Homo sapiens: one gene and its partner. The protein of the gene in region 1 purifies or fractionates together with the protein of each later gene. This does not show direct contact. Each region holds a gene or a part of one and is shown in the gene's direction. Other genes may lie near its edges.

Region 1 (5,769 bases):
TCCTATAAAAAAAGTACAGTAGAAAAGAGAAAAATCCAGACTAGGATCATCAGAAAGCTTCCCAGAAGAGGTAATAATACCTTTGAAACTTCAAGGTGAATGTTTTAATTTCTCTGTCAGTTCACCTTCTTAAATTGTGTTGGTGGTCCTGTTTACTGACCACCTCTCAGATCTTTTCTAAAGTGTGATTCACTGCATATCATGAATATTGACCCTTTGGGTCTGTGATCTGAAAGACTTGTTCCAAACCAAATCATGCTTTTCCCTACTTCAGCATTTTAAATGAGAAGATACCAAGGTGCTTTAAAATTTTTCACAAAGTCCTCCAAAATAGATGATTGGTCTCCCACCTTGGCCTAATGGGGACTGAGGCAGAGAGTTCACTTTCCATGTTATGTCAGTGCCCATCGCTGTTATAATCCTAGCATTTCTGTTTCTCGTACATATATTCATGTGTATATATGATTTATCTTGTTAATTTAAAAGTAAAATCCGATTGCACTTAGAGGAAGTTTGGATTGAGGAGCTATGACACCTGGGCAGAACCTCCTGCAATCTCCTTCTTGTCTCTCTAGTCACCTCGGCTGAATCCTGCAGTAACCTGTGCTGGGAAGGGAACACCACTGACTCCTCCTGCGTGTGCGTGCAGCTCTCTGCAGGTGGAGGTTGAGAGATTGCAGGGTCTGGTGTTAAAGTGTCTGGCTGAACAACAGAAGCTACAGCAAGAAAACCTCCAGATTTTTACCCAACTGCAGAAGTTGAACAAGAAATTAGAAGGAGGGCAGCAGGTGAGAGCATTAAAAGAATAATCCAATTTCTAAGCCTGTTTTGAAGAATCACAGAAACAAAACACAAAGTACTGAAATAGACTTGTTCCTTTGCAGGTCCTTACTTTTTTTTTGAGACGGAGTCTCGCTCTGTTGCCAGGCCAGAGTGCAGTGGTGCTATCTTGGCTTACTGCAACCTCCGCCTCCCGGATTCAAGCAATTCTCCTGCCTCAGCCTCCCGAGTAGCTGGGACTACAGGTGTGCACCACCATGCCCGGCTAATTTTGGTATTTTTAGTAGAGACAGGGTTTCACCGTGTTGGCCAGGATGGTCTCGATCACTTGACTTCATGATCCACCCGCCTCAGCCTCCCAAAGTGCTGGGATTACAGGTGTGAGCCACCACGCCTGGCCGATCCTTAGTTTTTAATGATACCATTTTTGTAATTATAATCCCAGAAGCCTTGGGCCTTGTTCAGGCACCTAGATTGAATCATTTTCATCACTTGCATTGCTTTTTCTTAGTGTATGTTTTTTCTTTTACAATACTTAATTACATACCTCTGAAAATAGACATTCTCCTGAACAACCACAATACTATAACCACACCTAAAAAAATTAATACTAGTATTGTCAATTCTCATCTAGTATCCAGCTGATACCTCAATTTTCCCAGTTTTCCCCCACAAAAATGTCCTTTATAACCATTTTTTATCAGACTAGAATCCAGTCAAGAATCCCACATTATATGTATGTCTCATTTCTTTTCATCTAAAACAGCTCCCTCCACCACCATCACCTTTTTTAAATTATTTTATTTTTATTTTTATTTTTATTTTTATTTTTATTTTTTGAGACAGTCTCACTCTGTTGCCCAGGCTGGAGTGCAGTGGCGTGATCTCGGCTTACTGCAACCTCCACCGCCCGGGTTCAAGTGATTCTTCTGCCTCAGCCTCCCGAGTAGCTGGGACTATAGACGCTTACCACCATGCCCAGCCAATTTTTGTATTTTTAGTAGAGATGGGATTTCACCATATTGGCCAGGCTGGTGTCAAACTCCTGACCTCGTGATCCACCTGCCTCGGCCTCCCAGAGTGCTAGGATTACAGGTGTGAGCCACTGCGCCAGGCCTTATTTATGTATTTATTTTGAGACAGGGTCTTGCATTGTCACCAAGGCTGGAGTGCAGTGGCACAAACATGGATCACTGCAGCCTTGACTTCCTAAGCTCAAGTGATTCTCTGACCTCAGCCCCCCAAGTAGCTGGAACTACAGGCATGTTCCACCATGCTCTGCTTCACCTTTTAAAAAAATACTTTTATGACATTGACTTGTTGAAGAAACCAGGGCAGTTGTTCAACAGAATGTCCCACATTCTAGATTTGTCTTGTTTTCTCAGGGTGTTGTCTAACTTGTTTTTCTGTCACCCTGTCTTTTCTGAAAACTGGAAGTTTAACCTAAGGCTTGATTAGATTCACATTAAACATTTTTAGTGAAAATACTTCAAAGGTGATGCTGCTTGCATTATTTTTCGAGAGCCATGCTATTGTTTTATATAGAGGGAAGTAGAAGCAGAGAAATAGGGTTAGGCCCTTGGCTTTGCCATTTGCCAGCTGTAGGTGTTTGGGCTACTTTGTTTTCTCTGAGCCCTGGTTTCTCACCTGAAAGAAAATAATAGACACCTTGTATGGTTCTTTGGAGGATTAAATGAACTAATGTTTATGAAATTACTTTAGAAAATAATATACAGGCTGAGCACGGTGGCTCACACCTGTAATCCCAGCACTTTGGGAGATTGCTTGAGCCCAGGAGTTCAAGACCAGCCTGGGCAACCTGGTGAAACCCCATCTCTACCAAAAATAAAAACTAACTGGGCATGATGGCACACGCCTATAGTCCCAGTTATTCAGGAGGCTGAGGTGGGAAGATCACCTGAATCTGGGGAGGTCAAGGCTGCAGTGATCCGTGATCACACCACTGCACTTCGGCGTAAGCAACAGAGCAAGACCCTGTCTCAAAAACACACACACACACAAGGTAAGATTGGCAGCTATAGCAGGGAGAAGATTGTTTTGCCCAGGACTTTTTCCATTTTAAAACTAAGAGTTCTGCATCCCAGGAAACCCCGCAGTCCTGGACAAACCTGGATAGTTGGTCACCCTACCTGCAGTAAATATAAAGGTATGGACTGTATCTAAAATAGTGCCATGAGCGTCTCACAAGATCGTGGCTACAAATCCTTAGCCACGCCTTAGCCAATGCCTTAGAAGTTGGCATTGAAAATATAGTACTGAACTACTTCTGTGACTAGGTGGCACTGTTGCTAATGTGGAACCGTGTTTTATCCGGACAGGTGGGGATGCATTCCAAAGGAACTCAGACAGCAAAGGAAGAGATGGAAATGGATCCAAAGCCTGACTTAGATTCAGATTCCTGGTGCCTCCTGGGAACAGACTCCTGTAGACCCAGCCTCTAGTCTCCTGAGCCTGTAGAGCCCCCAGGAGACTGGGACCCAAAGAACTTCACAGCACACTTACCGAATGCAGAGAGCAGCTTTCCTGGCTTTGTTCACTTGCAGAAAAGGAGCGCAAGGCAGAGGCTCTGAAGCACTTTCCTTGTACATTTGGAGAGTGGCATTGCCTTTTAGATAGGATCTAGGAGTGATTTTATTGTTTTGGAGAATGGAAGGGCCCCCATGGCCCTGGCTTTGTCATCAGTGACTGCCATAGCAACAGCAGCTCTGTACCTCATCTGTTGATCCCACCTTTGAAGAGGAGACACAGTGCTCACCTTAATTGCGCTGGTAGCAGCTTATATCCCATGTATCATTTTCACCATTGATTGGAAGCTGCCTTGGGAATTCAGTACCAGGCATTACCCCTCTGGGTGGGAGAGGGAGAAGTGTAAAGTTGGAGTGGGCTGGAATCAGGTGTGGCCCGCCCAGTGTCCTCTGCAGAGTGGTGAAGTAGTCTGGCCCTCTTGGGAGCCCTGAGTCCAGGAAAATATGTCTGATGGAGTCAATCTAGGGCTTGTTTCGAAAAAGTTCAGTTACTCTGTGCAGCTAAATGCTTTAGGAGGAAAGGTAGGCTTAGGTTGCTTTTCCTCTGAGGGTTGATTGAAATTTCTTCAGTGAGGAATAGAGAAAGGGCAGGACCCTCCTCATCACACAGCTGGTGTTTCAGGCTGTGACCAATGCAGGGTGGGATTTCCTAACTGTGGATGAGGGGATGAGGTGTCTCTGAGGGATGAGGTGTCTCAGAGAATTGAGTCCATGGGGCAGTCAGAATAGCCTTAAGAGAAAATCATGAAGGAGAAGAGGTCCTCCTTTAGCTGCCTCTACTTGGTATCTTAGAGAGGGCTTAGAGGGCTCTCAGTCTTCTGCCCATGAAAAGACTTCTTTGAGCCTCTGCCTTCATGGCTCTTAGGGTTCTGATCTTGATATCAGCAGCCCCAACCACTTTCTTTCTGAATGTCTAGTCAGTATTTTTCCCCTTTTGGTGTTTTATGAAGCCATGTGGTAACGAATGAATCTGTATCATTTTTCCTACCTGAGTGGCCCAAAGCCAGCACCAAACCCTGGGAGTCCCTGAAGCCTAACAGAACAGGTAGAACTTGCAAAAGGAATTTGGCTGAGAGCTCACTTCTAATCCTGTACTCACTGTGTCTTTGTAGATAGAAACAAGCTAGCTTTACCAAAGAGAAATAGTGTCATAGAAGAACAAAACTTCATATAGAAAGTTCTAGGCAAGTATTTGATGGTTTCCTTAAGGATGTGAGCTTTGTATTTCCACCTAGCCTTGTAAAATGTTCCTGTGGTATTTTGTGTCACACATCCTACCTTTGATGAGTCTCACATCCCACCTTCCTATAAACAGCTAAATTAATTTTGTTTCATCTTCCCCAGACCAAAATGTTTGATAATCTTATCAACATTGTGGGAGGTCTTGTGCAATGGAAATTTTGCCATTTCTCCAAAACTGGTGGCATAAAGGCTGATGCTTGGGGAGAACCCCATTGCTCGGGACAGGCAACTCTGTTCAATGGGATCTTCTTTGGTTTGATGTTCCCATTGTTTTCTCAGTTCTGGGAAGCCTAGTACATTAGTACTAATGTAATCACTGAAACCTTTTCTTGAAATAAGGGAAGCAGCCAAACTTTGATTAAAGTTGCAAGTTCTGGGGACTTGCGGGGGTTGTCATAAACTGTAACAGTGGGTTTTGGTTCAGCATGTAAATGCAACTTTGATTTTCTTGAGGACCGATTGACCTGTCATGTCCCTGTATCCTCATGCTCATCATCTCAGCAGGCCTGAGAGGCTGGGTCAGTTTGGGTGTTCATCATGAGGATTGCTTCTGCCATGGAGCTGATGGACATGGGCAGGTTGCTGAGAAGGTGGGGTGAAAGTGAGTGCCGGGGGTGGGTGAGTGCCCTGGTCTTGTTCATAGGGGAGCCTTTCCCTAGCAGTGGAACGCTGTGGTCATTTTCTCTAGCATATTCCCTTGGGAAGTCTAGATTTGCTATTAATCTGGCTGAGAATCTAAGTTCTGTGCCTTAGAGACAGTTTGCACTTTCCCATATTGTGCCTGGGACAGCCATATGATTTTTTTTCCCACCAAACAAGTATGCAAACAGAAACCAGTTCAAAGGGGGATGGAGTAAAAGATGAGGCAGTAGAAATGCCTTTGAATGGTTTTCTGTAGCTAATTCTCTTTAAATTTTGTCCTGCTTTTTTTCTTTATGCAGTGCTAGGTGTTTTAAGTTTTCTAGTAGTATTGCTTTTGAGTTACAGTATAACCTGAGTTACTCCTCTGCTCTAACATTGTTGCAGAAGAACTAGTTTATTGTTAGCCAGGTTGCTTGAAAGGTTGAGAGTGGAGTGGTTTGGCATTTCTGTTTTAAATAAACATTTAAGCTCTTAATCAGTACTGTGCTTCAGTAAGCCTGTGCATGGACCTTAGTCTCTGGGGATAAAACATCCAGATTCTAAGCCTCCGTGAATCTTT
Region 2 (4,896 bases), on another chromosome or scaffold:
CCTGCCAGGGCCCTTGGGATGCTGGGGTGGGGTCTTAGCAGAGGGGAGTGTGGTGGCTTGGTGGGAGCTCATCTGTGAGGGGCAGAGGGAGGACAGGGCACCACACTGTCCCAGGACTCAGTGCCTTTCCTCCCGCCTAGAATTACCTCCCTGTCTCCTTCTGCTGATGCCTCTCAACCAGTCAGGGCTCTCAGCTGAGGCGACCAGGGTGCTTTGCTAGATGTAGCTCACTCATGCACTCTCCAAATACACACTCAGCACTGGGCTCCCATCCCTGTGTAGCTCACAATTCTGTGCAGTCCTGTCCTTTTTTATTAGGAACATTTTTTTTTCTTTTTTTTTTTCTTTTTTTTTTTTTAGACAAGGGTCTTGCTGTGTTGCCAGGCTGGAAAGGCTGGAGTGCAGTGGCGCGATCTTGCCTCACTGCAACCTCCGCCTCCTGGGTTCAAGCGATTCCCCTGCCTCAGCCTTCCAAGTAGCTGGGACTACAGGTGTGCACCACCATGCCCAGCTAGTTTTTTGTATTTTAATAGAAACGGGGTTTCACCATGTTAGCCAGGATAGTCTCAATCTCCTGACTTCATGGTCCACCTGCCTCGGCCTCCCAGAGTGCTGGGATTACAGGCGTGAACCACCGTGCCCGGCCCTATTATGAACATTTTCAAAGCAGAGATAATAATTCATTGACCTCAAATACATCCATCACCCAAAGTGAATAGTTATCAGGATTTATCCACGGTTTCTTCATCTACCCCTTTTCGTTTTCTTCTTTCCTTTGCTGAAGTATTCTAAAGCAAGTCCCAGACACGTCATTTCACCCCTGCCTACTTCAGTGTGGACTTCTAAATAATGACACAGTAAGACAGTCCTTTCAGCCCTGATCTGACCAAATCTGTCGTCAATATTTAATAGCTCTTTGCTATGCCCCTGCCCTTTGTTTAAAAAAAAAAAAAAGTTTTTAAAGACAAGGTCTCATGATGTTGCCCAGGCTAGACTCGAACTCCTGGGCTCAAGTGTTCCTCCTGTCTCAGCCTCCTGAGTAGCTTGGACTACAGGCATGTGCCACTGTGCCTGTCTCTCTCTCTCTCTCTCTCTCTCTCTCTCTCTTTGTCGCCCTCTCGCTCTCTCTTGCTCTCTTTCTCTCTCGCTCTCTCTTTCTCACTCTTTCTCTCTTTCTTTCCTTTCTTTCTTTTCTTTCTTGAGCCTTGCTCTGTTGCCCAGACTGGAGTGCAGTAGCATGATCTCAGCTCACTGCAGCCTCAGCCTCCTGAATAGCTGGGACTACAGGCATGAGCCACCACACCTGGCCCAATTTTTGTATTTTTTTTGTAGAAATGGGGTTTCGCCTTGTTGCCCAGACTGGTCTCGAACTCCTGAGCTCAAAGCAGTCTGCCTGCCTCAGCCTCCCAAAGCGCTGGGATTATAGGCATGAGCTACCGCACCCAGCTGAATCTTTCAAAATAAAAAAAATTACCCTTTAACTTGGCAATTCCACATCTAGGGATGCTACAAAAATCTTCATGTACAAAGATGCCCATTGCAGAGTTGTTCGTAATGGAGAATATTTGGAAATAACCCAAGTTAAAACATTGATCTTGATAGTCTTTATGGAGACTATGGTGATCTACATGCTAGCACACAGAAAGAATGCTAAGACACAGGAAAAGTAAGTTGCAGAACAATCTATATAGTAGGAGTCAATTTGCAAGGATGGAGTTTTTATGGTGTGGTATGTGTATGTAAATAAAGTAGGCACATACCGCTGGCACTTATTATGGGCCAGCTATGTTGTTAGACCTTTTTTTTTTTTTTTTTTTGAGATGGAGTCTTGCTCTGTCTCCCAGGCTGGAGTGCAGTGGTGCAATCTCAGCTCACTGCAACCTCCGCCTTCCAGGTTCAGGCGATTCCCCTGCCTCAGCCTCCCGAGTGTCTGGGATTACAGGCGCCTGCCACCATGCCCAGCTGATTTTTGTATTTTTAGTAGAGACAGAGTTTCACCATGTTGGCCAGGCTGGTCTCAAACTCCTGACCTCAGGTGATGCACCTGCTTCGGCCTCCCAAAGTTCTGGGATTACCGGCGTGAGCCACCACGCCCAGCCATGTTAGCACTTTACATCACATAAGGTCAACATGCTAACACAACCGTATGAGGTAGGTACTATTGTTAGTATCCTCATTTTACAAAATTGGAAACTGAGGCCCAGAAAGGTTGAGTAACTTGCCCAAAGTCACACAGCTAGGAAGTGATGGAGCAGGGATTCAGATTCAGCCTCTCTGTTATCCATGCTTTCATCCACTGTTCGTTCTTGCACCAGTGGTCCTCACCCTTTTTGGCACCAGGGATGAGCTTCATGGAAGACAGTTTTTCCACAGACAGGGTTGGGGATGGTGTAAGGATGAGTCCAGCATATTACATTTATTGTCCACTTTATTTCTGTTATTATTACATTATATAATAAAATAATTATACAACTCACCATACTATAGAATCAGTGGGAGCCCTGAGCTTGTTTTCCTGCAACTAGATGGTCCCATCTGGGGGTGATGGGAGATAGTGACAGATCATCAGGCATTAGATTCTCATAAGGATCATGCAGCCTAGATCCCTCACATGCGCAGTTCACAATAGGGTTCGCACTCCTAAGAGAATCTAATGCTGCCGCTGATCTGACAGGAGGTGGAACTCAGGCAGTAATGCGAGCATTAGGGAGTGCTTGTAAATATAGTTGAAGCTTGTCTCGCTCACCTGCCACTCACTTCCAGCTGTGGGGCCCAGTTCCTAACAGGCCACAGACCAGTACCTGGTAGGCACTGGTTGGGGCTCGGGGACCCCTGCCTTATAGCATAAAATGTGAGCGTGTATGTATATAAAAACGTTTATGCTTGTAACTGCTTGTGAGGTCCACAAAGAGTAGAGTGTTACTTTCAGGGAGTGTTAACTTGACATAGGCCTTATATGGGCCTTTTCATTTTTTTTTTTTTTTTTTTTTTAGAGACAGTCTTGCTCTGTCAGGCTGGAGTGCGGTGTGCAGTGGTAGCATCATAGCTCACTGCAGCCTCGAACTCCTGGGTTCAAGCAGTTCTCCCACCTCAGCCTCCCTAGTAGCTGTGACTACAGGTGCATGCCACCATGCCTGGCTAAGTTTTGTATTTTTTGTAGAGACAGGGTTTTGCCACATTCACCAGGCTGGTCTCAAACTCCTGGGCTCAAGCGATCCTCCCACCTTTGCCTCCCAAAGTGCTGGAATTATAGGCGTGAGCCACCATGCCCGGCTTATTTTTTATTTTTTGTAGAGATGGGGGTCTTGCCGTGTTGTCCAGGTTGGTCTCAAACTCCTGAGCTCAAGCAGTCCTCCCACATCGGCCCCGCAAAGTGCTGGGATGACAGGTGCGAGTCACCACACCCAGCCTCCATCATTGTTTATACTGAGCATCGCCTGTGGTCAGTGGTGGGATTGCACTGTGTATTGTTTGGCACCTTTTTTGCACTTGACTATGTATCTTGAAGATCCATCCATTCATGCCAGAACATAAATCAGCCTCGTTTTTTTTCACAGCTGCCTGCTATTCCATCTCCCCTGTTTGGACAAACAGCATAGTGTTGACTTGAGGTTTTCAAAGCAGGGCCCACCCTTGGAGCTCTGTACAGTGACACATCTCCCCATCGACAGCTCTGCAGTGGGCCTGGGGTTTTCCTGCCCATTACTCTCCTCCCAGCATGTCAGCTTGTTCAGAACAGTGATTTCTGTCTTTTGGGGTCACTGCTGATTCCCCGGCCTCTAGAATAGAGGTTGGCACACAGCAGGTACCTGTGGATATTGGTTGAACAAACAGGTGGGCAAAGTGAGGAAGATAAGAAGTCCATCCGTTCAGTTTCCCCACTGCGGAGGGAATAACACTGTCTTTCCACAGGTCACAGACTGGGATGAGCAACGGGCTGAAGGCACGTTTCCCGGGAAGATCTGAACTGGCTGCATCTCCCTTTCCTCTGTCCTCCATCCTTCTCCCAGGATGGTGAAGGGGGACCTGGTACCCAGTGATCCCCACCCCAGGATCCTAAATCATGACTTACCTGCTAATAAAAACTCATTGGAAAAGTGAGACTATGCGTGTGAACGGGCCAGGCAGTGGCAAGAAGCTGGGCTGGAATCAGTGCCCTGACCAGGGAGGGGCTTGAATGAGTATTTTCTCTGTTTTGTTTTTATTTATTTAATTTAATTTAATTTTTTTTTTTTTTATGATGGAGTCTCGTTCTTCACGCAGGCTGGAGTGCAATGGCACGATCTCTGCTCACTGCAACCTCCACCTCCAGTGTTCAAGCGATTCTCCTGCCTCAGCCTCCCGACTAGCTGGGACTACAGGCACACCCCACCACACCTGGCTAATTTTTGTATTTTTAGTAGAGATGGGGTTTTACCATGTCGGCCAGGCTGGTCTCAAACTCCTGACCTCAGATGATCCACCTGCCTCGGCCTCCCAAAGTGCTGGGATTACAGGCATGAGCCACCATGCCTAGCGTTTTTTAACTTAATTTTATTGAACCTTGGCCACCCTCTCTGTGCCAGTCAATGAGTCAAATAGTTGATTATACAGAATAACCTAAGTTCCTATGTGTGCAACCACCCTACATAATTTTAAAGCAAATTATATAGATTATAATATAATATAAAATACATAAAGATTATATTTTATCCAGAAATAAGAAACTATATGTATCTCTTGGAGATACAATTTTTTTTTTTTTTTTTTTGAGACAGAGTCTCAATCTGTTGCCCAGGCTGGAGTGCAGTGGTGTCATCTCAGCTCTCTGCAACCTCTGCCTTCTGGGTTCAAACTATTCTCCTGCCTGGAGATACCTATTTTTTTAACATAATTATTTACACCTAAGAAATTAGT

What was found. The genes of interacting proteins can lie anywhere in the genome.
Region 2: the proteins of NEK9 (region 1) and COX6B1 purify together in Homo sapiens (co-immunoprecipitation; one large-scale study listed by IntAct). This does not show direct contact.

What each region holds. Positions count from the first base shown.
Region 1 is NC_000014.9:75,082,037-75,087,805, reverse strand, and holds part of NEK9 (serine/threonine-protein kinase Nek9), read left to right. Parts: intron 1-575; coding exon 576-788; intron 789-3,119; coding exon 3,120-3,242; 3' UTR 3,243-5,769.
Region 2 is NC_000019.10:35,654,682-35,659,577, forward strand, and holds the end of COX6B1 (cytochrome c oxidase subunit 6B1), read left to right. Parts: intron 1-3,912; coding exon 3,913-3,966; 3' UTR 3,967-4,101; downstream 4,102-4,896. UniProt on the Homo sapiens protein: Component of the cytochrome c oxidase, the last enzyme in the mitochondrial electron transport chain which drives oxidative phosphorylation.